7 linked regions of the Homo sapiens genome follow. The protein of the gene in region 1 interacts with the protein of each later gene in a biochemical or structural test. Each region holds a gene or a part of one and is shown in the gene's direction. Other genes may lie near its edges.

What was found.
Region 2: of the proteins of CUL4A (region 1) and ST7, one has a biochemical effect on the other in vitro, tested with the Homo sapiens proteins (one study listed by BioGRID).
Region 3: the proteins of CUL4A (region 1) and DCAF6 form a complex in vitro, tested with the Homo sapiens proteins (one study listed by BioGRID).
Region 4: of the proteins of CUL4A (region 1) and CENPA, one has a biochemical effect on the other in vitro, tested with the Homo sapiens proteins (one study listed by BioGRID).
Region 5: the proteins of CUL4A (region 1) and DCUN1D5 form a complex in vitro, tested with the Homo sapiens proteins (one study listed by BioGRID).
Region 6: the proteins of CUL4A (region 1) and OXSR1 interact in a test that uses a peptide from one of them, tested with the Homo sapiens proteins (one study listed by BioGRID).
Region 7: the proteins of CUL4A (region 1) and SALL2 form a complex in vitro, tested with the Homo sapiens proteins (one study listed by BioGRID).

Annotation. Positions count from the first base shown.
Region 1 is NC_000013.11:113,258,113-113,261,612, forward strand, and holds part of CUL4A (cullin-4A), read left to right. Parts: intron 1-2,494; coding exon 2,495-2,647; intron 2,648-3,500. UniProt on the Homo sapiens protein: Core component of multiple cullin-RING-based E3 ubiquitin-protein ligase complexes which mediate the ubiquitination of target proteins. As a scaffold protein may contribute to catalysis through positioning of the substrate and the ubiquitin-conjugating enzyme.
Region 2 is NC_000007.14:117,215,501-117,219,000, forward strand, and holds part of ST7 (suppressor of tumorigenicity 7 protein), read left to right. Parts: intron 1-3,500. UniProt on the Homo sapiens protein: May act as a tumor suppressor.
Region 3 is NC_000001.11:168,002,683-168,006,182, forward strand, and holds part of DCAF6 (DDB1- and CUL4-associated factor 6), read left to right. Parts: intron 1-1,187; coding exon 1,188-1,307; intron 1,308-1,850; coding exon 1,851-2,111; intron 2,112-3,500. UniProt on the Homo sapiens protein: Ligand-dependent coactivator of nuclear receptors. Enhance transcriptional activity of the nuclear receptors NR3C1 and AR. May function as a substrate receptor for CUL4-DDB1 E3 ubiquitin-protein ligase complex.
Region 4 is NC_000002.12:26,789,056-26,792,072, forward strand, and holds part of CENPA (histone H3-like centromeric protein A), read left to right. Parts: intron 1-3,017. UniProt on the Homo sapiens protein: Histone H3-like nucleosomal protein that is specifically found in centromeric nucleosomes. Replaces conventional H3 in the nucleosome core of centromeric chromatin that serves as an assembly site for the inner kinetochore.
Region 5 is NC_000011.10:103,050,186-103,054,160, reverse strand, and holds the end of DCUN1D5 (DCN1-like protein 5), read left to right. Parts: 3' UTR 1-3,475; downstream 3,476-3,975. UniProt on the Homo sapiens protein: Contributes to the neddylation of all cullins by transferring NEDD8 from N-terminally acetylated NEDD8-conjugating E2s enzyme to different cullin C-terminal domain-RBX complexes which is necessary for the activation of cullin-RING E3 ubiquitin ligases (CRLs).
Region 6 is NC_000003.12:38,245,537-38,249,036, forward strand, and holds part of OXSR1 (serine/threonine-protein kinase OSR1), read left to right. Parts: intron 1-538; coding exon 539-685; intron 686-2,131; coding exon 2,132-2,196; intron 2,197-3,500. UniProt on the Homo sapiens protein: Effector serine/threonine-protein kinase component of the WNK-SPAK/OSR1 kinase cascade, which is involved in various processes, such as ion transport, response to hypertonic stress and blood pressure.
Region 7 is NC_000014.9:21,520,580-21,523,346, reverse strand, and holds the end of SALL2 (sal-like protein 2), read left to right. Parts: coding exon 1-643; 3' UTR 644-1,102; coding exon of another isoform or gene 1,103-1,339; 3' UTR 1,340-2,267; downstream 2,268-2,767. UniProt on the Homo sapiens protein: Probable transcription factor that plays a role in eye development before, during, and after optic fissure closure.

The DNA of each region.
Region 1 (3,500 bases):
TCCTCCCACCTCAGCCCCAGGCATATGCCACCACGCCCAGCTAAATTTTTGTATTTTTTGTAGAGATGAGGCCTTGCCATGTTACCCAGGCTGGTCTTGAACTCCTGGGCTCAAGCAGTCTTCCTACCTTGACCCCCCAAAGTGCTGGGATTACAGCCGTGAGCCACCGTGCCCGGCACCAGGTTCTTTTAATTAATGTAGCTATTCCTATAACTTTATTCTTCCAATGAACTTGACAATAATTGTATCACGCCTTTGCTCCCCCAAATAAGAACATTGACATTTTTAATCCATATTGCATTAATTTACAGAGCTTTTATCTTTATCATATTAAATCTTGTGATTCATACATATGTGTATATATGTAAATACATACAAATCTTTTTCTCAGAGCTTTCTAGTTTTCTTCTGTAAGTCTTGCATATTTCTTGCTAGTCATAAATTTTCATTCATTCAACAAATACTTATTGAGCATCTGTGGTGGCCCAGGTCCTCTGTGAAGCACTGAGAATTCATCCATTAACAATAAAGAATAAGTCCTTGTTTCTAGGAGTGTTCAGTCTTTTCCAGCAGAGAGGTAGCAGAGGATCACACACATTGACTAACTTGTAAGAGTGGAGGAAAATGTTAGGATAGAGAAGTGCAGGAGAGTCTAATTAAATACTGTCGTCAGCCAACGCTTTCCTGAAGAAGTGACTAGCTTTGCTCAGGAACTGAAAGAAGGCCTCTGGCTGCAGCATCGTTGCCAAAAGGGGAAGCTGAGCCAGACAGGCCTGATCAGGGAGCCACAGCTGGACCCTCTGAAGATGGCTCAGATCCATGAAGCATTTGGAAAACCACTAGAGTTTTAAGCAAGACAGGCTAATGAAATGCTGATATCTTATAAAGGGGACCTTTTTTCTTTACATTTCTGACGGTTTTTATCAGAATGTATGTATTAATGCTATTTGTCTTTGTATATTTATTTTATTTCCAGCCACTTTACAAAACTCTTTAGCTTTGAAAGTTTTTCTGTTGATTTTCTTGGATTTTCCAGCTCATCTACAAATAATGATCGTTTTGTCTGCACCTTTTCAATATACCTCTTTAGTCTGTTCCTGTATTGCATAGTTAGAACCTCTAAAGTAATGTTTTTAAGGAATAGCAGTGCAGCTGAGCTTCCTAATTTTATCTCTAGTTCAGAGGATGTTAACTTTTTGGGGGTCATGGATCCTGTTGAAAATGTGATGAAAGCTTGGAGTCTCTCCCATCCTGAAGCATACTTGCCTCATATGTATGCACAGACCTTCCCCCAGCCCTCATTTCAACTGCAGATCCCCATCAGGTTCCTGTTGGACTAAGGTTAAGTTGTCTCTAGTATTTGCTGTTTGTTTCTGATAACCATGTTTTATCATGTTCAGATGCTTTTTTATTCATCCTTGTATGCTAATGTTTGTTTTAAATCAAAAAATCAATTTTATCATGCCTTTTCAGCATCTATCAAGATGGTCATGTAATCTAACCTTTCAACTGCTACAGTGCTCTCACTTATATTCACAGATTTCCTAATGTTGATCAACACTTAACATTTCTGGAATATATCCTGATGGTCATTATGTTTTGTTTACTGTGCTGCTAGTTTTAATCTACATCACACATAGAGTTGTTGCAGCTTTCTTATAAGGAAAATAACTTTTAAAAATATTTTTTAAGTTTTGGTTTTGGAGTTTTGCTATTCTGGGAAGGTACCTTTTACTACAACAAGTAAACATGCATAATAAAGTAGGATTCATCCAATGTCTGACCTTTCTTTGCATCAAAAGAACATTTCCGGCCAGGCACGGTGGCTCACGCCTGTAATCCCAGCACTTTGGGAGGCCGAGCCAGGTGGATCACGAGGTCAGGAGATCGAGACCAGCCTGGCTAACATGGTGAAACCCTGTCTCTACTAAAAATACAAAAATGAGCCGGGCATGGTGGGGGGGCACCGTAGTCCCAGCTACTTGAGAGGCTGAGACAGGAGAATGGCGTGAACCCGGGGGGCGGAGCTTGTAGTGAGCCGAGATCGCGCCACTGCACTCCAGCCTGGGTGACAGAGTGAGACTCCGTCTCAAAAAAAAAAAAAAAACCATTTCCCATCAAATTCGGTAACATCAGGTCATTAATATTGAAATATAGGCCAGGTGTGGTAGCTCACACCTGTAATCCCAGCACTTTGGGAGGCCAAGGTGGGCGGATCATCTGAGGTCAGGAGTTCAAAACCAGCCTGGCCAACATAGTGAAACCCTGCCTGTACAAAAATACAAAAAGTAGCCGGGCATGACAGCAGGTGCCTGTGATCCCAGCTACTCGGGAGGCTGAGGCAAGAGAATCGCTTGATCCTGGGAGGCGGAGGTTGCAGTGAGCCGAGATCACACCATTGCACTCTAGCCCAGGCAACTGAGTGAGACTCCATCGCAAAAAATAAAAAGAAAATACAGTTTTACACTTAACTTTTTTTTTCTTTTTTATACAGGTTGAGGAACAGGTTAGCACCACTGAGAGAGTGTTTCAGGATAGACAATATCAGATTGATGCTGCTATCGTCAGAATAATGAAGATGAGAAAGACTCTTGGTCATAATCTTCTAGTTTCTGAATTATATAATCAGCTGAAATTTCCAGTAAAGGTAAATGTAACATTAGCATAATTAAATTTGTAGTATTTGCTAAACAATTGACAAAGCATGTTTAATTCTATGTTCAGTCATATCATTTGACCTGCATTATTCATGGTGCTTTGTGTATACACTGAATGTAGAAAAACTGGCAAATGTGAAGCTCTTTATTCCAGGTGTTGCTCATTGCCACTGCAGAAATGATAGAGCCCTAAAACTCTCCTTCCCAGGGATGGTGCGCGCTTGTTCATATTTTCAGGAAGGGAAGAGGTAGATGGGACATGGAAAGCTGAACACTTTTCTCATAGTAGTAGCGGTCAAGGTTACATCACAAGATTTTAAGGAAATGATAACAATAACTAACTTACTCAGCGTTTACAGCCTACACCGCGTTTTCCACCACGGTAATAGTCTACTGTTGCTGTTGCTTATGAAAGTCAGCCCAGGCCTGTCAACCCGCGTTGTTTTCAGAACTGAGATTTACTGTCCTGCCACGTGTGGGATGCAGGATAAGCCGGGAAAGTATTATGAAACGTTTTTTACATGTATTTATCAACCCAGGAAATACTGAACTCTGATGACGCCTGGCCTCTCAGGGACAGGACCGGCCACACGTGCTTTGGAGGGAAAGTCCCCAGATTCCATGTTGTGCAGTTTGAGCCTCCCATTCCATCAAGGGAATAAAGTTGAGATGCACTAAATAGTCGAACACTTAAGAGTCTGGTGGAAGTGCCACTGTCCATCAGCCCACATTTGCCCCCTTCCCTGCAGAGGTGAGGTGCCGTCCTCAGGGCCCTGGGAAGCTCCAAAAGCACCATCAGGTTCACTGCCCCTTCCTCCCACCAGCTGGAGCAAGTCTCCTGTT
Region 2 (3,500 bases), on another chromosome or scaffold:
GATGCCTTGACCTCTGCTGTTACACTTAGTTCCTTTACCAGCCTTTTGAGGCCTGTGGTATTCTCATTTTACAGATGAAGAGACAGGGACACAGATTAACGACCCACGCAAAGTCATACGCTAGTGAGCCTAGGCAGGTCCTGCTCATCCTTTAGATGCCACTTTGGCCGCTTCTCCATTATGTACACACAGCACCATGACTCCCTTGGAGGTATTCATCACCGTGGGAACCTTTGCTCTTACTTTCATGATTGGATCCTGCTTCTGGCACTTGGTGGTGAGCTCCATGAGGGCAGGGGCAGTGTGTGCTGGGCTCACCTTTGTGTGCTTGTCACATAAGAAGCCACTCACCTTTTGTCAAGCAACTGATTATAAGAAGTAGAGCTGGGATTCAAACTCGGTTCCCTCTGTTACAAATAATCTGTATAAAATTATCTAAGATACTCTAAGATTGATTACATTCTATCCTTGCCTATCTAGTAGGTAGAGTAAGAAGAGGTCATTAGAAGTCATTGGGAAAATCAGGAATTAACTTGTTCATGTATCCATCCTTTTGTCATTTCTTTGGTTCTGTTTATTTTTCCCCCCAGTATCAATTGAGAATCTCTGACGGGAACAGCACTGATAGACTTGGAACCTAGAAAATGTGTCTGGTCAGGGATAGAAGAAGACAGCATTGTGCCACAGACTTGATTGTGAAGGCATGATCTGTTCTTTCACTAATTCTCAGTTTCATTTTGACCCTTCAGCAAATTCACAACCAAAATCAAGGTAGGGGAAGGGATGGCACACAGAGGAAAGTGCAGAAATATCATTTATATACCATGTATTCACTCTGAGTGGCCTAACTTTTTTGTTTTGTTTTTAACCCAATACATGTGTATTTTTAATTCCTCTGAAATTTGTGTTTTCTTAAGGATTTTTAGGTCTGTATTCATTCATAAAATAGATCTGTTCAAATGACCTTTTTCTATTCTTATTAGCACCACCAAATCAGTGTGTTTTTAATACTTAGATTCGCAAAATTTCTGGACATTTGGCAAAAGGCACAAGGCTGTCATGGAGCAGTTGCATGTCTTAGCAGTGAAAGGGACCAGGAGGTGGGAGGTGACGCTGGCAAGGCTTGTGCAGTGCCTCTACCGGCCTCTCTCTGGACCTCCCCTGCTTATCTCACACTTGACTGGGCCCTGCACTGCAGGGTGGGTAAAGGATAGAATTGCAAGCAGAAATTGTATTTGCTTTTGTTTAGTGAAGCCAAAAGCCTTAATATTATTTTTTGAGCTCAATGCAAATGGCAACTGACATGAGAGAGATTTTAAGAGCACCATAAGCATCTTTATAATCATGGGGGTGGAGGGCAATCCGGGAAGAGGGTGTGGGTGGGTGGGTGGCTGTGTGTACACATGCACTCTTTTTAAAGTTGTATTGTGTCTCTAACCTCTCCAAAAAAGACCAGAACCAATTAGAAAAAGGAAAAGGCCAACTTGACGCACAAAATTCTATATGCATGCCAAATATTGGAGTGAAAAACATGTAGCATTTGACTGAAAAGACACCAACCAACCATTAGATTTCTATGGTTGAACACTCTCAAGATCTTGCACTCCTGTATTTCATTTAAAAAATTACTCCCTGAAGTGCAAACTGACTTCAATTTTGAATAAAATTTAGCATTCAAATTTATAGCCACTTTGAAAACTGAGGGTTTATTTATATCATATGAACTTGAACAGATACTTAATTACAGCAACCCAGCAGCCCTTTGCACATGGAGAATCTGGATTTGGGAAAAAAAAAAACAAAAAAAAAAACTTCCCACGTAGGTTTTTCCACATTTTTCAGATGCTTTTGTAGCAGCCATCATTTATGGGAAATGGCATTAAAATCCTGCCGTAATGTAGTTTAAGTTTAAATTCAGTGCTTCCCAGAAGAGATTTTAGTGTATCCTATAAAGGCACTAAAAGGCTTATTTTTGTTTTTGTTTGTTTTTGTGGGGGGTGTTTTGTTCTCTTGAAAGTCTGGTTCTAATGAGAGAGATGTTGGTTCCTTGGAATGATCTTTGTGTGTTAACAACCTGTGCAAAGAACTCCTCTCTTGCTTGTTCTAGCGGGCAAAAGTCATCTTTGTTTGCGTGCAAGAAAAGGTCTGATTGAACTAGGGTGAGCCTTTCATTTTAAGCAGAGTTAAAGTCTGGGGTGTTTTTAATGTTTTAATCTCTGTTTAAGAGGTTTCTGTTATGAGAGGAAAATTGATAACATTTTTACCTCAGCAAACTGCCAGCAAACTGGCTCTGCTCTAATCCCACATTTATAGTGATTTATATTCTCCGTGGCAATGTGCTGTAACCTCAGAGTGATACCACTGCGGTGTAGATTGACTGCATTCCAAATGCTGGAATCACATACATAATGTTTTTACTTTTAAATAATATTCAGACACCAGAATAAATACCATATGTGCACTGATGCTGGTTACAATGGAACCTTGTCATTTCTTGTGAGGGAGAACATTCTTTGTTTCTGATTCCTGTTTGAAATAAGTATGCAAAAGATAAATATGTACATTGACAGCATTTTGAGAAGGCTCTGGTAGTTACACAGCTGAGGATGTAGCTATGATTCCTTGAAATGTATCATTTAAAACTAAAAATATTGCTGCATGTTGCCCCCATCCCTCACTACCATACATGAAGGCAAGGATTGTTATCTGACATTCCCAGAGTAGGGTAGAGCTTTTATATTTTATATCTACAGCAGGCTGTAGTAAGAGGACATCTGTTGAAGAAAAATTACCTCCGTGAGTACTGTTCATAGGAACAGTGAGACTAACATGCTGATGACATTGTAACAGGGAGAGTAACACACTTGATCATGGGAAAGGATGGATTGATTGGAAAGCCGTAATTCAGTGTGAGCCCTAATGTCATCTGATGCTACAAAAGCAGAATTTAGGTGGCCTAACATCATCAAAATACAGATAATTAATCTCTCCAGATCAATTTTCCCACATGATAAAAGTTAAGATTTAAACTTTTAATAAAGTTTAGAAACACCTCCCGAGTTATACATTTTTAGATTTTTGTTTTTATTCATCTTGATTGGAATTCAAATCCACTTAAACAGTATTTTTTAAATCAATTTGGTAGAATACCTTTCATATTTGTACATCTATACAAACTCCAACAAGTCGATCCACATTTGCTTCTTGGGGAAGCATTTTAATCCACGTTTGCATGATTACTATTTGTTTAGCTATATTGAATTAGTGCCCATAACATTTTAATAATATTTAGTAGATGATGAAACCCTGGGCATTGATACTGATGGCTTCCCAACCCCTCTGCACCTCTGTCCCCACCCAGTTTTGTGAGGTTTGCTCAGAATATATAGTGTGAGATGAATGTGTGAGTAATCCATCACAATTTATCTCTGACATTTCATCTGGCACATAGCTTGGTGGGGTAAGCCTTGCCTCCTTTGTAGAAGTGTTCCCTGTTATAA
Region 3 (3,500 bases), on another chromosome or scaffold:
ACATATAGGTATACTTATGCAAATATATCTTAGGATAAATTCTTAGAAGTGGAATGGCGCAGTCACTGGATAAGTACCTTTTAATTTTGGTAGTTGTTATCAGATTAGTCTCCAAAAAAGATGTGCTAATTTACATTCCCACTGAAAGTATAAGAATGCCCATTACCCCATAGTACGTTGGGTATTGTCAGACTTTGCAGTTTTTGCCTTTCTATTAGATATTAAGAGAAATGAAAACTCAGCCCAAGGGTTTTATATTAGCACATAAAATGTTTTCTATCAAGTGCCTTTGATAAGCATAAGAATCAACCCTGGGAGCTTTAAGATAGCACACTTGAAAATAGAATTAATCTATGAATTATAATTCTATATTATTATGTTTTATTAAATTGGTCTGTAACCAAAATCTTACTATAATGACTTCTGAAACATCTCTTGTGATCAAAAGCATATTCCCCAATATATGAGCTACATTATATAAAGGCAATAAAGTGTAAAAGAAACTCTGATTTCACAGAAAATGTAAGAAGAACCGATTTTCATTTTAAATTATAAGACTATAGAATAGAGTTGTCACATTTTGAATTTGACATTACACTTTTAATTTGAAAATACCCTTGGAAAAACTTGTTTACTTGCAGGAGGAAAAGGAGTGAGGGAAGAGACAAAATACTTTCTGGTTCCAGTTAATTTCAAATATCTGAAATTTGCTTACAGTAAATGATGTTGAAAATAAATTGACTTTAAGGAAACTTCATGCAAAAGCATAAGGCTATTTTGTGTCTGTACTTGATTATAATGCTTTAGGGAGAGGGAAAACCTTTCTTTTAATCTATTAAACTTAGAATTCATGAGCCTTTCTTGGCTGGGTACTCTTAGAACTAAAAATTTAGGTTGAGGTAGGAAGTGGGAGGTTTAGTGGTACCTAAGAATAGGCAAAGATGAAGGAGAGGTGAGCCCTGTTCTCAAGAAACCTTACCATACACATGGAAAGTCACTGATATAAACAATTACTATAAAATGTGATGAGAGCTCTAATAGATTTATATACATTCATACAATTTATTTAGGAAATTTGATTTTTAAAAATATGCTTTCATTTTAAAGCCCTTCAAATCTAGGTTTTTGTATTAATGAAAGATTCTGACTTATTACTAAACTCACTGATAAGACCTATATTGTAATAGGAGAGCAGAGTCCCAATGTGTCATTGATGCAGAGAATGTCTGATATGTTATCAAGATGGTTTGAAGAAGCAAGTGAGGTTGCACAAAGCAATAGAGGACGAGGAAGATCTCGACCCAGAGGTAATTTTTAATGTTAATTAAAGTCATCAGAAAGCTGGCAAAAACTACTTATTGAAGCCAGTTTTTATTTCTATCATGTAAATTATACCATGTTTTACATCTGTAATAATCACAAGGTTCTTATTGTGTGGTGTGAAGTAGTAGAGAATAAAAGATATTGGATATAATTTGTCCCTTCTGGTGCCATTGGACCTAGTGCGTATCTTTTGCTTTTCTCAAAGTAAAGTAGAAGAATCTGAGGTTTCCTATTTTAAGCCTTTTTTTAATGCACTCTGAGAATGGAAATATATAAAATTCTGTGTATAAACAAGTTTTATGTAATAGGAAAGATTGATTGCTTTAACAAGAATATGTTGTAGATAAGTTTTTATCCCTCTTGACTGGCCTATTTTGTCAAATGGGCCAAATCACCAGTAGTTATTATCACTGAAATTATATATTTGTGTGTGTAAATATAAATGTGTTTTCTGAGCATATCTGTTTAGAGTTGTTGGTTTTAGAAAATATTTAAAATTTGAATTTGCCTTAACATGTGTTTTGAAGGTGGAACAAGTCAATCAGATATTTCAACTCTTCCTACGGTCCCATCAAGTCCTGATTTGGAAGTGAGTGAAACTGCAATGGAAGTAGATACTCCAGCTGAACAATTTCTTCAGCCTTCTACATCCTCTACAATGTCAGCTCAGGCTCATTCGACATCATCTCCCACAGAAAGCCCTCATTCTACTCCTTTGCTATCTTCTCCAGACAGTGAACAAAGGCAGTCTGTTGAGGCATCTGGACACCACACACATCATCAGTCTGGTGAGGATAAGTATGCTGTGGTTCATCTAATGATTTTTGATAGTGAAAATTTCTTTACTGGCTATTTTGAAAGATACTAAATCACATCAACTTCTTGTTGGAATAAATGATCAAAATGACATGTAATATATGGTTATGTAACTTAAACACAAAAATTAATTATGTCTTACTTGCATGAATTTTAACAAATAGCAGGAATCTTCAATTTATATAAAACAATTGTTTTAAAAGTACAAGTACCAAAAGATAGTGTTTTGACATAGTTTAATGTGCCTGACTTAAATATTATTTTATAGATTATTAGAGACCAAAATATCTTTCTAGATTTATTTGGTTTTATGTCTATATTAAAGTGATTATGAAAATATCAGTATTAGTTTCACTTTGCTTATATTCTTGATTATTTCCCTCAAATAATGCAGTACTTTTAATATACTCTCTATGGTGGATTTGATATGGTCTTTTGTCAACAACATATAATTTACCAAAAAATTTGTTTCTCTAGTATTTACATGAAAAAGAATTATTTTACCAAATGCTTATCTTCTTGATACTTGATGCTAGTGAAAATAACCTCTACGTTCTGTTAAAATGCTATTTTTTTCTCAGTATTATAAGTCTTTATGGTCAACTTTTTTCCCCTAACTATGGAATGTGCTAGTATTTATAATAGTAATTTTCAGCAGATGTATCTACAGTTTACTCGGTACTTTAAACTATATACATGTAATTATAAAAACCAATAAGATATTTATTCATAGTTTTCTTTGGTTCTTCTAAGGAAGAATTTTACTCAATATAGAGCCAGAATTATTAGCAACTAGAAATATAGCTGGCAGGCCTAAGCTGAAACCTATAAAAAAATTTCTAACAGCTTAGCTGCCAAGCTGTCACTTTATTCTTACATCTCTGGAAACTGATGCCAGATTACCAAATATGGGATGTTTTAATTTAAGCACTCTTTTATCAGTATATACCACTTTTAGTAATTCATTTTCAGTTTCTATGGGAATAAAAGCCAGAGTCAGTTACATAACTGTTAACACTGTATACATTTTATCCATAATAATAAGCTAAAGCTGAGCTACAGAATCAAGGTTTTCACACTCAGTTGACATAGCATTTTAATTTATGGAAAAATAAAATATTTTGGAAGATTTGGGAATTAAAAGCAGAAGTAGTTAAAAGTTTGTTTTTCAAAGCAGGTAAAATTGGGAAAAGCAAGAATTTTTAAAGTGATATTCTTGAACATATTGATCAATTATAAGTTTTTAGGAAAACTTAGCAAGAAGACTCTAGCTTACATTCAGCTTCCACTGAATCTCAACTAATTCTAGTTGTTTCTTAAATATATTTATGAGTAAAGTATTTGGAACTTTATTTTTTAAA
Region 4 (3,017 bases), on another chromosome or scaffold:
ACTTCCCTTCATAGCTGTCCTTTTAAAATAGCCAGACTTGTTAGGTCCACATACATTGCATCTGATTCCTCCCTTCCTAGTGACCCTACAACCCACTCCAATCTGACTCCCCACAACCACTACCCCCACTTCTAATCTGCTTGAACTACTCCTGTCAGGGTCACTAGCACCTTTTGTAGTGCCAAATCCAGTAGGTGGGTCTGTGTTCTTACTGTGTCTCAGAAGCATTTGACGCAGTGGGCCTCTTTCTCCTTGAAGCGTTCTGTTCCCTTGGCTTCCATGCCACTGTGCACTCTGGCAGTTCTGCTTGGTGTTCTCTACTGCCTGTGCTGCCTCCCTCGGCTCCTTGATGTTGGACTTCCTTGACATCCTTTTCCTTTCTACCCCCTCCCTAGGTGGTCTCATCTCCTCCGTGGCTCTAAATCCCACTCATACATTGACAGCTCTCAAATATCTGTATACCTGGATCTCTCCTCTGACCCCAGATACCTATATCTAACTGCCTTTCTACCTGAAGGCTCTTGGTTATGTTAAACTTAACACACCCAAAACTGAACTTCTGGTTACTCCCCTCCAGCCCCTTCATCCTCAGCTTCCCCATTTCAGTAAATGGCACAACTACCCACCCAGTTGTTCAAACCACAAGCCTGGGAGACCCCCGTCTCCAATACAAATGCAGGTCCAGATAATTCTACTTCCAAACTGCATCCTTAATCACTCCATTTTCACCATCTCTGCTCCCACTAGCCTAGTCCAAGCTACCAGCAGCTCTCGAGCAACTGTGAGAGCCTCCTAATCAGCTGCCACTCCACTTCCACTCTGTCCCTTTCTACTTCTTTCCTTACACAGCAGCTGGAATGACCTTCCACATCTCTATCCTGCATAAAACTCTTCCCTGGCTTCTTATTACAGTAGGATTAAATTCCATCTCCTCATGTTGGCATTTCAAGACCCAGCTACTAAATTTTTGATCCCAGTTCTTTTCCATGATCTCTCTAATTGGTTACTTTTCATAACCACTTGTTCTTGGGTCATGGATTTCATATCTCTGTTACCTCTCTGAGTTCATTAACCATTTTTCTCTCAAAGTTTCTATTTCTTTTCTCTATTAACTCAATTTCCTCTGGTATTGGCTATTTTGTTTGTTGAGTTTGGTTCCTTTCTTTCATGGTATTGGCCTTCTTAAATTGTTGGGTGATCTTTAGTTGTGTTCATCTTCAAATTTTCTGTGAATGCTATGTCTTGTTTATTTTTTTATTTTATTTTATTTATTTATATATTTTTGTTTGAGACACAGTCTCATTCTTGTTGCCCAGGCTAGAGTACAGTGGTGCGAGCTTGGCTCACTGCAACCTCCATCTCCTGGGTTCAAGCAATTCTCCTGCCTCAGCCTCCCAAGTAGCTGGGATTACAGGTGCCTGCCACCATGCCCGGCTAATTTTTGTATTTTTAGTAGAGATGGGTTTCTCCATGTTCATCAGGCTGGTCTCGAACTCCTGACCTCAGGTGATTGACCCACCTTGGCCTCCCAAAGTGCTGGGATTACAGGCGTGAGCCACCGCACCCAGCCCTATGTCTGTTTATTAAAGACTGCCTCCAGTGACTGGATTGCCAACTGGTGGTGGGGAGGGAGGGAGGTGTCAGTAGTTTTTCTCCTGGGCATGGGTCTTCCCAGTTTTAAATGTTATCAGTCTTCTGGACACTGCCCTGTTTCATTGGCCTGTGTTCTCTAGCCTCACCCAGGGATGGTCTCCTCTGCTGGCTGCCTGGCACAGGCCATCTCTGGATTGTCTCACCTACCCTACTTGCTCTTGCAGCTCTTCTAACACTTCGTGATTAGTTTATTGTATTAAATGCCTTCTATCGAACTTGGTGTAGAGTCTCTTTGCTTGGCTGGATCCTGAATAACATTTCTGAAACAATTTTATCCGTCAACATGTTATTTTTGTATTTTGTTTGTTCAACTTATCAGATGTTCACTCATCTTGATCCTTGGTTGTAATTATGGAGCAACTGTGCTGTTTTTTCTTTAACTTTATTTTCACTAACTTATTTTCTAATATTTCTTTTGTTCTATCTTGTTTTGGTTTACTTTAATAACTCTGTAATACTTAATTTGACTGCTTGGCTCAGATACCTTTTAGTGTTCTTGTTTTCTAATAGGAACACTTTAAGGCTATGCATTTTCCTCTAGTACTATTTTGGCTGTATCTCATAAGTTTTGGGATATGGGCTTTTTATTGTTATTCATTTCCAAATAGTCTAATTTCAATTAAGTTTCCTCTTCAACACAGGTTAGTTAGAAGAAACTGGTTTTTGATTCATGAGTTTTTAATTTCCAATTAGAGAATTTGGCTTTTTTGATTCCTACTTTTGGGAATGTTTTTAAAATTATTTTCTTTTTTGTTCTTGTTGGAACCAGGATTTGAGCCAAAGGCTCTGTCTCCACAGCCCAGGTGCCTGACACTGACACTGAGTTAGGCCACACCTTACACAGGTCTCAGCTTGGCCACTAATGAGGGCTGGCCAACCATCTTCACCTCGCTGGGCCTCAGGATGATCAAGACAAGGGAATTGTACTAGTCTCTCAGATTCTTTCCAGCTGTAAAAAACAAACCAACAAAAAATCTAAAACCAAAATAACTGAGCTTCCAATCTAGGTGGGAAAGATCTAAGACTTGTACAAAGTCCTGCAAAGCCCAGAGGAGGGCGGTCACCCATCTGTTTGGAAGGATCAGGATTCGGGAAAGACTTCATGGAAGAGTTAGCATTTAAAATCAACTGCAGAGGATCATTCACTCATTCATTTAACAAATGTTTATTTAGCACCTATCTGCTATTTTCTAATTGCTGAAGATAGCAGCAAAATTACTATATATCAGGTTGGTGCAAAAGTATTGTGGTTTTTGCCATAACTGCAATGACTTTTGCAGCAACCTAATAAAACAGACAAAAATCCCTGCTCTGTGGAGGGTAGGCACATAGATATAGTCTAGCAATTTGACAGCTTACCTGAC
Region 5 (3,975 bases), on another chromosome or scaffold:
GACATAGATGTGGAAATTGGGAGGTTCTCTCTATCTGGCTTACGTCAGTTTGAGAAGTTTGACATGAAATGGAACCTTCTGGAATGAGGTTCTTTTTCCTGCTTTTCACCTGGAAAGTTTTCCCATACATGGTCCTCTTGCACCCCTAGTCCTTTTAGGGTACCTATTTCTGTGTGCTAGTTCTTTCATTTCCTTGTCTGTAACATGAGGATAATAATAGTCCTTATCTAATAGCATTATTTTGAGGATGAAATGAAATACAGGCAGTAAATATTAGTTACTCTTTGCTATCTGGAAAAACATCAATTGAACCTCATAGGATGGACTTGTGTTCAATAAGTGTTATATATAGTAGAGTCAAATGGAAAAATTGAACCACTCAGATACATTTTTTTCATTGATACATAATAGATGTATTTATTTGGGGGGTACATGTGATAATATGATATATTCATATAATTAAAATTCATTGATACATGATGTATTTATTTGGGGGTACATGTGATAGTATGATATATTCATATAATTAAAATTCATTGATACATAATGTATTTATTTGGGGGGTACATGTGATAGTATGATATATTCATATAATTAAATGAAGATAATTGGGATATCCATCACCTTAAATATTTATGTTTTCTTTACACTAGGAACATTCGAATTCTCTTTAGCTATTTTGAAATGTACAATAGTTTAGTGTTAATAGATCAGTCATCCTACTGATATATCGAACACCAGGTCTTATTTCTTCTGTCTACATAGACATATTTAGAAATGCAAATCTCTTAGGAAATTAATCTGTAATGTCAATGATGCACACTGATTTGTATTACTTGCTTTCTTTGTAGGCAGTATAGTGAAATGGTTCATTAAATGGATGCTAAATATGACTAAATGATCAATTTACAGTGTAGTTGGCACCAAGTAATAAATGCTCAGTAACATAGCTACTATGGCTGTCTTTAAAAGTGGATTGGTTTGACTTCATAGGAAGGACTCTATTTTTAAAAAAGAGAAATATTAAAAAATAAAAAGCCAAAATTCTATGATGTCTTATTACATTGAGTCTCTTAAATCAGTTTTTTTTTAATTAAGTAGCAGGACCCTATTGCAAAATAAGTTTTACCTAGAAGCACAGTATTTAAAACAGAAAGCTAAAATACTCTGGTTAAGTGGGAAGCTCCCTGTCTTCCTCGCTGCTAGTATTATTTCTGAAAAACCTCAAAGGAACTCCTTGCTCTCTGAATAGCAGGTTTTAAAAACCACTACTTGCACATTTGCACCTTGACATCAAACATGTGAACAAAGTAATAGAGTGAGAAAACTGAATTTCTATTTAGGAATTTCTATTTTATTCTCTCTATAAAAAGCCAAGAAGTGGTTGGTGTTTGGAATAACATGAAAAATATTCCAAGTATCTTTGGAAATACTTACACTAGAACTATAAGGTTTATGATAATTCTATCTTAGATTCATTATCTAGAGCTGGTCTAAAAAAGGATGATATGTAAGAACTACCAAGAGAGACTTGGAGTAGATACAAGAATGAAGGAATGAATCAATATCCAATAAATATCCATAGGCCCAGGCTTTGCTATGCCCTCTTATTACACAGGATAAAACAGTGTAGTTGTTAGTTTCTACCTTTGAAGATTATGATCCTTAAAAAGGAAACAGCTCTGTGAACAGAGACCATGTTATTCATAGGTGTTCCTCACTTGTTTCCACCACATAATAGGTATTTAATGAATGAAAAAATTCACGTCTCTCTTTGATCCTAGACTGCAAGTTACTTAAAAGAAATGGACCGTATTTTACTTATCTCTCATGGCCTGCAAATTGAGTTTGCTTACTGAATTAATGAATGAATGACCAATTGTACACATATGTCTGTAAAACGTTTACATATCCACATTCCCATTAGACTGAGATTCTTGAGGGCAGAAACCATGTCTTCAGCTCTCAGCATGGTGCCTGACTCATGGTAGGTTGTCAAAAGCATTTGCAGAACTGAATAAAACTTACGTTTAAGTAGTACTGGAGCAGTCTCACATAACCGGGCACAGTGTCTTCTAAATAGACACTAAAATTATTTCATAATTAAAGACAGATCTCACTAAGCATTTTCTGAGTTAGTGCCAGTTGAATAATATGACAATAAGCTATAGGAGTTCAGAGGAGAGTGAGTTCTGTGGACTGAAATAGTCAAAGTGGATTTTCAGAGCAGATGAGACGCGATGAAGGCTGGGGCTACTTTGGTGTTTTAAGAACATTAATTAGGCAGCAGGAAAATCTGAGGACAGGGAGACTAGTAAGGAAGGCTGGAAAGAGCCCTGGGTTTGGAGTTCAGAGATCTGTGTTCAGAGTCCTTTGCTTCTTAGTGACTATGTGACCTTGAGAAGATAACTTGAGCTCCCTTTTTCCTCTTCTGTGAGGTAGAGGTAAGATTGATGTGCATATTGATATTGTACTTAAAAGTGTTTGTAAAATGCTAAGTAAAACCTAATGCTATGCTTTGAATGTAGTGGGTTCCAAATATTTGTTTAATGACAAAGAATAAATGATATTGACTAATGAAAATAATGGAGCCACTGGAATGTCACCTCCTGCATCTGCCAGTAAACCTGTTAACACAGGGGTGGCGGGGGGGGGGGGGAAGTAAATATGTGAAGCCACCAAATCTCATGATCAGGAGAAAAACTTTGGAACTCCCATGAGACTCCAAAGTTATGTCACAGGTGAATAAGTCATGAACTTTTCATGCTGATATCATTTCTAAGGTTGCTGCCTTGTCAGAAGAAGCAAACCACAAGATAAACCATGCAGAAAATCTTTTTTTAAAAAAGTTTCCTGAAGGATGGATGGTTCATTTGTTCTGCTTGTCACTTTACTTACTAATGAGTCATTTTTTTCCTTAACCAGTAATTTGTTTTAAATTTGGTCATAAGATGGTATGTTGACTAGTCCAATGTTACAAAATAATTGGAAAAAAGATGACAGACCACCAACTGAATAAGGGAAATCTGGTTCTTGAACTTCCAATGTATGAATTGGTGATGGTAAGCTTAGTCTTTATGATGTAAGATTGGATTTATTGGAACTTCTTTATGTCCAGAAGTTGCAGCACCTTTCTTTGTCTCTGGAATGCCCAAGATCTCTACTGCATCCTGTAGACATGGAGGGTTTCCCCCCTTATTCTGGGTCTGATTATTTTTAAAGAAACACCCTTTCCTTACCCATCATGGAGACACTACTAACCTTGTATATACTTTTATTAGAGTGCTGATAACACCATATTACAGTAGCATACTTACATATCTGTTTTCTTAACTGTGAGCTCCTTGAGAGCAGGGACTGTGTGTTTTTGCTTTTATTTCACCAGTACTCAGAACTATCCACAGTATAGAAAAGCACTCAATAAATGGAATAAATGAAAATGAATAGATAAATAAATGATTTCACTTGTATAAGATGTCCAGTAATCTTTTGTGTATTTTTCTAATTCACTGTATGGCACACATTCTAGTACAACCCTGTTTATAATGTTGACCTACTATTAAAGGAATTAAACAAATGTAAGCCAAGACAAGAAATGCATATTAAAACAACTATGGTATTTTTGCCTTCCAAATTGGCACAGATTTTAAAAATTGATAATGCCCATGTTTGATGACACAAGGAGACAGGAATTGTTATACTTTGCTGGAGGGAATATACATTGGCATAGCCTTTTCTGGAAGTCATTTAGGGAGATACATCCAAAAGCCTTAGTAAGTTTCATATTTTCTCACCCAACAATTCTATGCCTATCATCTTAAAGAATAAATTTTAAAACTTTCAAAAGATTTTTATCATAACATATTTGATAGAAAAAATGAAATAACCTAAATGTTTAAGCATAGAAAATTTGTTGAATAAATTACAGCATATTTATGCAATAGAGTACTATGCCATCTTGAAAAATCCACACTG
Region 6 (3,500 bases), on another chromosome or scaffold:
CTGTATTTTGGAGGTGCTGTTTTGCTGGGCAAAGGAATGGAATAGATTTTGTTAAAGATAAATATAATGCAAACTGAAGACAGACACAAAAGACTATATATTATATGATTCCATTTATATGAAATATCCAGAAAAGCAAATTTATAGAAATTAGGATCAGTTGTTGCCTATGGCTGGGTGTGGAAGCAGGAACTAACTATAGGCATGAGAGGACTTTTTGGGGGTGATGGAAGTGTTCTAAAACGATTGTGGTGATGGTTGCACAATTCTATATATGGTACAAAAATCGCCAAATTGTACAGTTACAGTGGGTAAATGTAGAGAAATATAAATTATACCTCACAGAGTTGTTAAAAGTTTAAAAGCCTAGAAATATTTGACTTCCGTTTGGAATAGATATATTCGGAGTAGACACAAAACCTGTACACTACCCAAAAACTACTTTGAAAATATCACCCTGAAAGGCTGAACTTGCTGTCAGCAGACCTGCCTCCCTTTCCACACAACTTAAGCAACACTGTGTGTGTTTTTGTTACAGCTCTTTCCAACAACTGATCCTGTGGGTACTTTGCTCCAAGTTCCAGAACAGATCTCTGCTCATCTACCTCAGCCAGCTGGGCAGATTGCTACACAGCCAACTCAAGTCTCTCTCCCACCCACCGCAGAGCCAGCAAAAACAGCTCAGGTAAAGCCGGGGATATGGTTTCATGGTCACTCCTTTGGATAGATGAAAAGAGCAGATATTAACGTGGAATATAACCTAATGTAATCAGGTTAATGTCTTGGTAGATTTTGAAACAAGTTAGAAATTCTGTCTTCACATTTTTAAGCATGTACAGGTAAGAGAATTTTACAAGGATCACATGCAGGTTTTTAAGCAACAGAATAAGTTAATGATGGAAATATTTCAAACATCAAAAATTTTGGGCTAATTTCTTGTCAGCTTTGTATTAGATAATTACATTTAACTTCAGAATGCAGCTCATGAAGTTCAACAGAGACTAGGAGAATCGATGGCTGTACTGTTTTTGTTGTTGTTGTTCACTCAGGCTTATACTTTTTATTAATACTCTTTGTTTTCTGTGGTTTTTCTCTATTACTCTTTTTAAGTTATTTGTCAATTTTGTGAGGGTTGGTTTGTTAAGTCCGGGTATTATAATCTGTAAATCATTTATCCAGGTGCACACAAACTTTATTAAATCATACTTCATTGAGAGCAGCCAAGTGAATGAAGGCCCCGTAGTGGGCTGCTACATGCTGTGTAACTCCTTCTCTCCCTTCAATAAACCTCAGACACTGCATACAACATGTGGCCCTATGGTACATGGTTAAAGTAAGACTTTCAACGTCCATTTATTAAATATTAGAAGTTCCATTTTCTTGTCTAACGTTTTAGATGAAAAGAAATATAAATTAAAGGTCTGATTTTTTTTTTTTTCTTTTGCACCCCAGTAGATCATCTCGTGTTCTGCCTTTGGAGATCACTGCTTTGAGCATTTCCAATTAGTCATGGCACTTACTTCATTTAACTTTGCATCCCTCAAGCTTTCCATTTCTGCTTGGCATATGGGAAAAGATACAGTTGTCTTAGGAAAATTGATGGAAAAATTAGATTCATTTTATAAACAACTTAAATCGAATGCATGTCCTCCCATAAGCAAGCGCTGTACAATTTTCAGAGAGGATTAGTTTAGCCATAAAAAGACTGGAACCTATGTATGGGTTGGATGGATTTCTGAAGGGCAGCTGGTTCAGGGTCTACCTTTTGTACTGCCATATGGTGCACTGGCAGATTTTTTAAAAATGAGAAACCTAGCTTTGTGTTTTTCAGTCTTGTAGAGGGGAACAGGGGTCTCAGAAATATAAAATGTAAATGTGGCTATATGTGAAATTTCATCTGGGCTTGAGAGTTTTCTTTCTCATTGTGTTGGACTTAAACTGACATTCAGCTTTTGTTGCTGCCTTGGAGTGCATGTCCTCCTCCAGCAGGGAATGTCCTGGGGATTAGTATGACCTCAGCTGGAGATGAAGAAAATTGCTGCCAAGTAAATGATTCCTCTGCCAGTGACCATTAGTCACCTCCCCACTTAATGTTTCAGGCAATGACTGTATACCTTTCAATGCTTTTTAGGCTTTGTCTTCAGGATCAGGTTCACAAGAAACCAAGATCCCAATCAGTCTAGTACTAAGATTAAGGTAAGTAGACATTTTTTGTTTTGTTTTCTTTTGTTTTCTGAATATTCTGCATGTGCTGTAATAGTCTGTGCCTGAGAGTAACTGGATAGGATTGTATGTCCTCCAGCATCAAGCTCTGTTTGCTTGGTGGTGTATTATTTTTCCCCAGAAATAATAGCAACAGTGTGAGGACCTGCATGTTAGCAGGTGTTGTGACTAACTGATGCACATGTTCTCTCAGTTGTTTCTGTGCTAATTGGTGATGAGTTTGTGTATTTACAGTGTAGCTAGTTTGGGTTAGGAGGTGTAGCCTGTAATTGAGGAACAGTTTTTAGGGGAGCAGCACTAACTGGCTTATCTGAAGATCAGTCTTATAATTGTGACGAGGTAAACTCTGAGATCAACTAACCCAAGAGGGGAGCACTTTTTGATTGTGGTAGATCAAATAAAGGCCTTGTTTTTAGAAGGTTAAAAGGAAACTTCTAAATGTTTTTGTAGTCTGTTTCTGTTTTGCAGCAAGTACCCTAAATTGGTGGTTCTTGGTGGGAACATATAGAGAGGTCCTGACAGATTGCTCAGCAGGAAGTGCCATAGGTAGCAGTCTGTTCATTTTAACTCCCTGCCCCGCCCCCCCCGCCCCTAGCACTAGTAGCTGGATTCAAATTCCAGAGCTTTCTTGTCAGAATCACTATGGCTGTTGTATTGCTCTAGTTAGGTCTCTTTCTACTCATAAATGCATTTGAAAAAAAATTAGTATTAAAGTATCACTTGAGGCAACTCAGGCCTTTTAAAACTATTACTAACATTTTAAAAAAGAGTTCCACTGAATTACCATTAACTCATTCCCCTTGCACATATAAATTCCTAGTCATCTTTCTGTAAGGTCCTAATTGGAGATAGAGGCAGCAAGAGCTATTTAAGAGAATGTGGTAAGGAGAATCTCATTGCTCCTTGCCACTAGGAGCAATGCATTTATGCCATAAATGTGAAAAACATATTTGGTTACCTTTCCTTTACAGAAGCCTACTTAGTATACCTGGTCTCATCTCAAAAATTCTGAGTTACTAGGATGTCTTGACAACTTCATGCTGTTTTAAATCTACATAAAGAATAACACTTTAAGAAAATTATTGTGAAATGTATTAAGCACAGACTATGTATAGCACTCTTCGGTACTGTGGAAAGGTGGATACTGAGAAAAGAGAAAATTAAATGACTCCCTTAATAATCAAGTCTAGGTTGGAAGTTGATTTGAACTATGTACTTACACAGCTAAAAGCAAATTTCAGGTAGTATATACATGCAGAAGTATAAGTTTGTATGTA
Region 7 (2,767 bases), on another chromosome or scaffold:
GGCAATATCAGTGAGAGGTGATTCAGAAGAGGCATCTGGGGCAGAGGAGGAGGTGGGGACAGTGGCGGCAGCAGCCACAGCTGGGAAGGAGATGGACAGTAATGAGAAAACTACTCAACAGTCTTCTTTGCCACCACCACCACCACCTGACAGCCTGGATCAGCCTCAGCCAATGGAGCAGGGAAGCAGTGGTGTTTTAGGAGGCAAGGAAGAGGGGGGCAAACCGGAGAGAAGCTCAAGTCCGGCATCAGCACTCACCCCAGAAGGGGAAGCCACCAGCGTGACCTTGGTAGAGGAGCTGAGCCTGCAGGAGGCAATGAGAAAGGAGCCAGGAGAGAGCAGCAGCAGAAAGGCCTGCGAAGTGTGTGGCCAGGCCTTTCCCTCCCAGGCAGCTCTGGAGGAGCATCAGAAGACCCACCCCAAGGAGGGGCCGCTCTTCACTTGTGTTTTCTGCAGGCAGGGCTTTCTTGAGCGGGCTACCCTCAAGAAGCATATGCTCCTGGCACACCACCAGGTACAGCCCTTTGCCCCCCATGGCCCTCAGAATATTGCTGCTCTTTCTCTAGTCCCTGGCTGTTCGCCTTCCATCACCTCCACAGGGCTCTCCCCCTTTCCCCGAAAAGATGACCCCACGATCCCATGAGCCTGTTTTTCTGTACCTGCTGCTCTTTGTCCCACAGAGCAGAAACAGCTTCACAAAAGGACCTCCCAGAGTTATGAGCCCTGATTTTGTCTTTTTCTCTAAGTTCTTAACATGTTATGTCCCTAGTGGCTTTTCTGTAGTCCCTGAGCTTGGAAATTACTGTGCTTACAAGGGGATGGCCCCCTAAGGAATTTTTCTTCCCTCCTCATTCTTTGTACCTGAGGAACATAGATTCTCTGCAGCTTTCTCAAGGGGAACCCTCTCCAGCTTCCCTGGTGTGACCCTTCTTCCCCCTCCTCTCTCCTCTCCCTTTCCCTTTGGTAGGTGCACCTGAGCACCTACATTTGGCATTGCAGCCTAGCCAAAAAGGGCTGGCAGCTGTCTCTGGAGGGCCCAGTGCCACTCCTCTGGGGTGACCTTTCTGCTCAGCTGGTGGGTATGGGTCCCCTATCTTTCTAGAACCAGTATGTGGCATTCCTGTCAAATGGCCTGCCCATGAAGCCCTGGAATTCCAGCTCCACCTCCACTACCACTCCAAGCCTGGCCCCACCAGTGCTGTTTGGCCTAGGAACTGTGGCTGGGAAGGTGCCTCCAACAATGGGATCCAGGGAAGCCAAGGAGAAGACAGCCCCCCTCCTATTTCAGCCTCCTGCACCCAAGGCAGTGCCTGAGAAGCCCATCATAGACAAGAAGTAGCAAACTGTACATTCCTTCTTCCTCCCCCTGCTCCAGAAGGTGCCGGTACTGAAGATGCTCCAGTAATTGGTGACCCAACCCTAGGAAGTAGGGAGAAATGAAGGAAGGGCATAGGAAAATTTTCCCAGTAAATCCCCTGATGGTCACATTAAGGTAAAGGTTTTGGCTGGTCAGTGTGCCAAGACCTCTCCAGCTTCTCATTCATGATGACCTCTCAAAGTTGGGAAACAAGCTGATTTCTTGCCAAGAGGTCTCCCAGGAGATATTTGGGAAATGTGAAGTTCGTATCTTTAAGGAGCATTTTTGGTCAGCATGGTTGATGAACTAATGATGAGAGAGTTAAGGAATGTTGCTAGAACATAGGGCTTGCTGGTACCTATGTGACTAAGAAAGGGACATGATGTAAGGGAAAAGGCCTCAAATTCTTGTGAATGTCTGGACATTCTCGTTAATATTCTTTTGGGCTAATAGTGACATAGTGTGCAGAGGTGTACCAGGGATCATGGGGGATTTCCTAGCACTAGTATGCTTCTAGTTTTAGATAACTCCCTCCTTTATTCCCTGGCCCCTTGTATTTTCCTTATCTTCCTCTTTCAAGACCCCTACCCATTTTGCCTATCCGTAGGCTGGGGCTTGTGTCTTTGTCATTGTCTGGTTCTTAAGAGTCCCAGACTTTGGGAGACCAGCTCCAGGTGGCGTCCTCCCTGCCTCTCCGTCTTGTAATGAGTTGTAGTATTTACTCTTAACATAGGATCATTTGGAACAGGAGTTCTGAGGAGGAGAGAGTGAGGGTTTTGCTATTGACTGACTTGAACGATGGCTTCTCCTCAAGCTGTAGGCTCCAGAGCTTCCTAACCTAGTAAAATGTCAAGAACAGACGGGAGATATTAGTGTCTTTCCCTCTATCATTAAAGGTGTTTTAACCAAATATTTATGTGTTTCTCCTTATTTCATGATTACATAGCCAGCTGGGGTGTGATATGGGCATTCCCCAAAATTGAGATTCCCTTCCCACCTACATCTCCTGCCAAAGCTGAACATATGGTGTTGAAATATTTACTTTATTCAGCCTTGTCCTAAGACAACCTTCAGTTAATGTAACTTCTCTGTGGAAATTGTTCCCTGTGGAGTTTGTATTTCCAAAAGGTAGGCATTTGCCCACTGTGTCCAGTCATTGTCTAGATTTTCTCTACCTAGAACCTTCCACCACCAGGCTTTTCTGTGGGTTTTGTTTGGAGGTTGGAAACTGTTTCTTTTCCGTCTTTCTCAAACCACAGATCAGCCTTCTGACATCAGCGAATCTGTAGAACCAAGGTGAATTAAACTTTATGATCCTTGAGATCTGATGTCATAATCAGAAAGAAAAAAATGTAATTCAACCCTAATAATTTCTACCAACAAGACAAAGGAGGATTCTTATCATTAGGA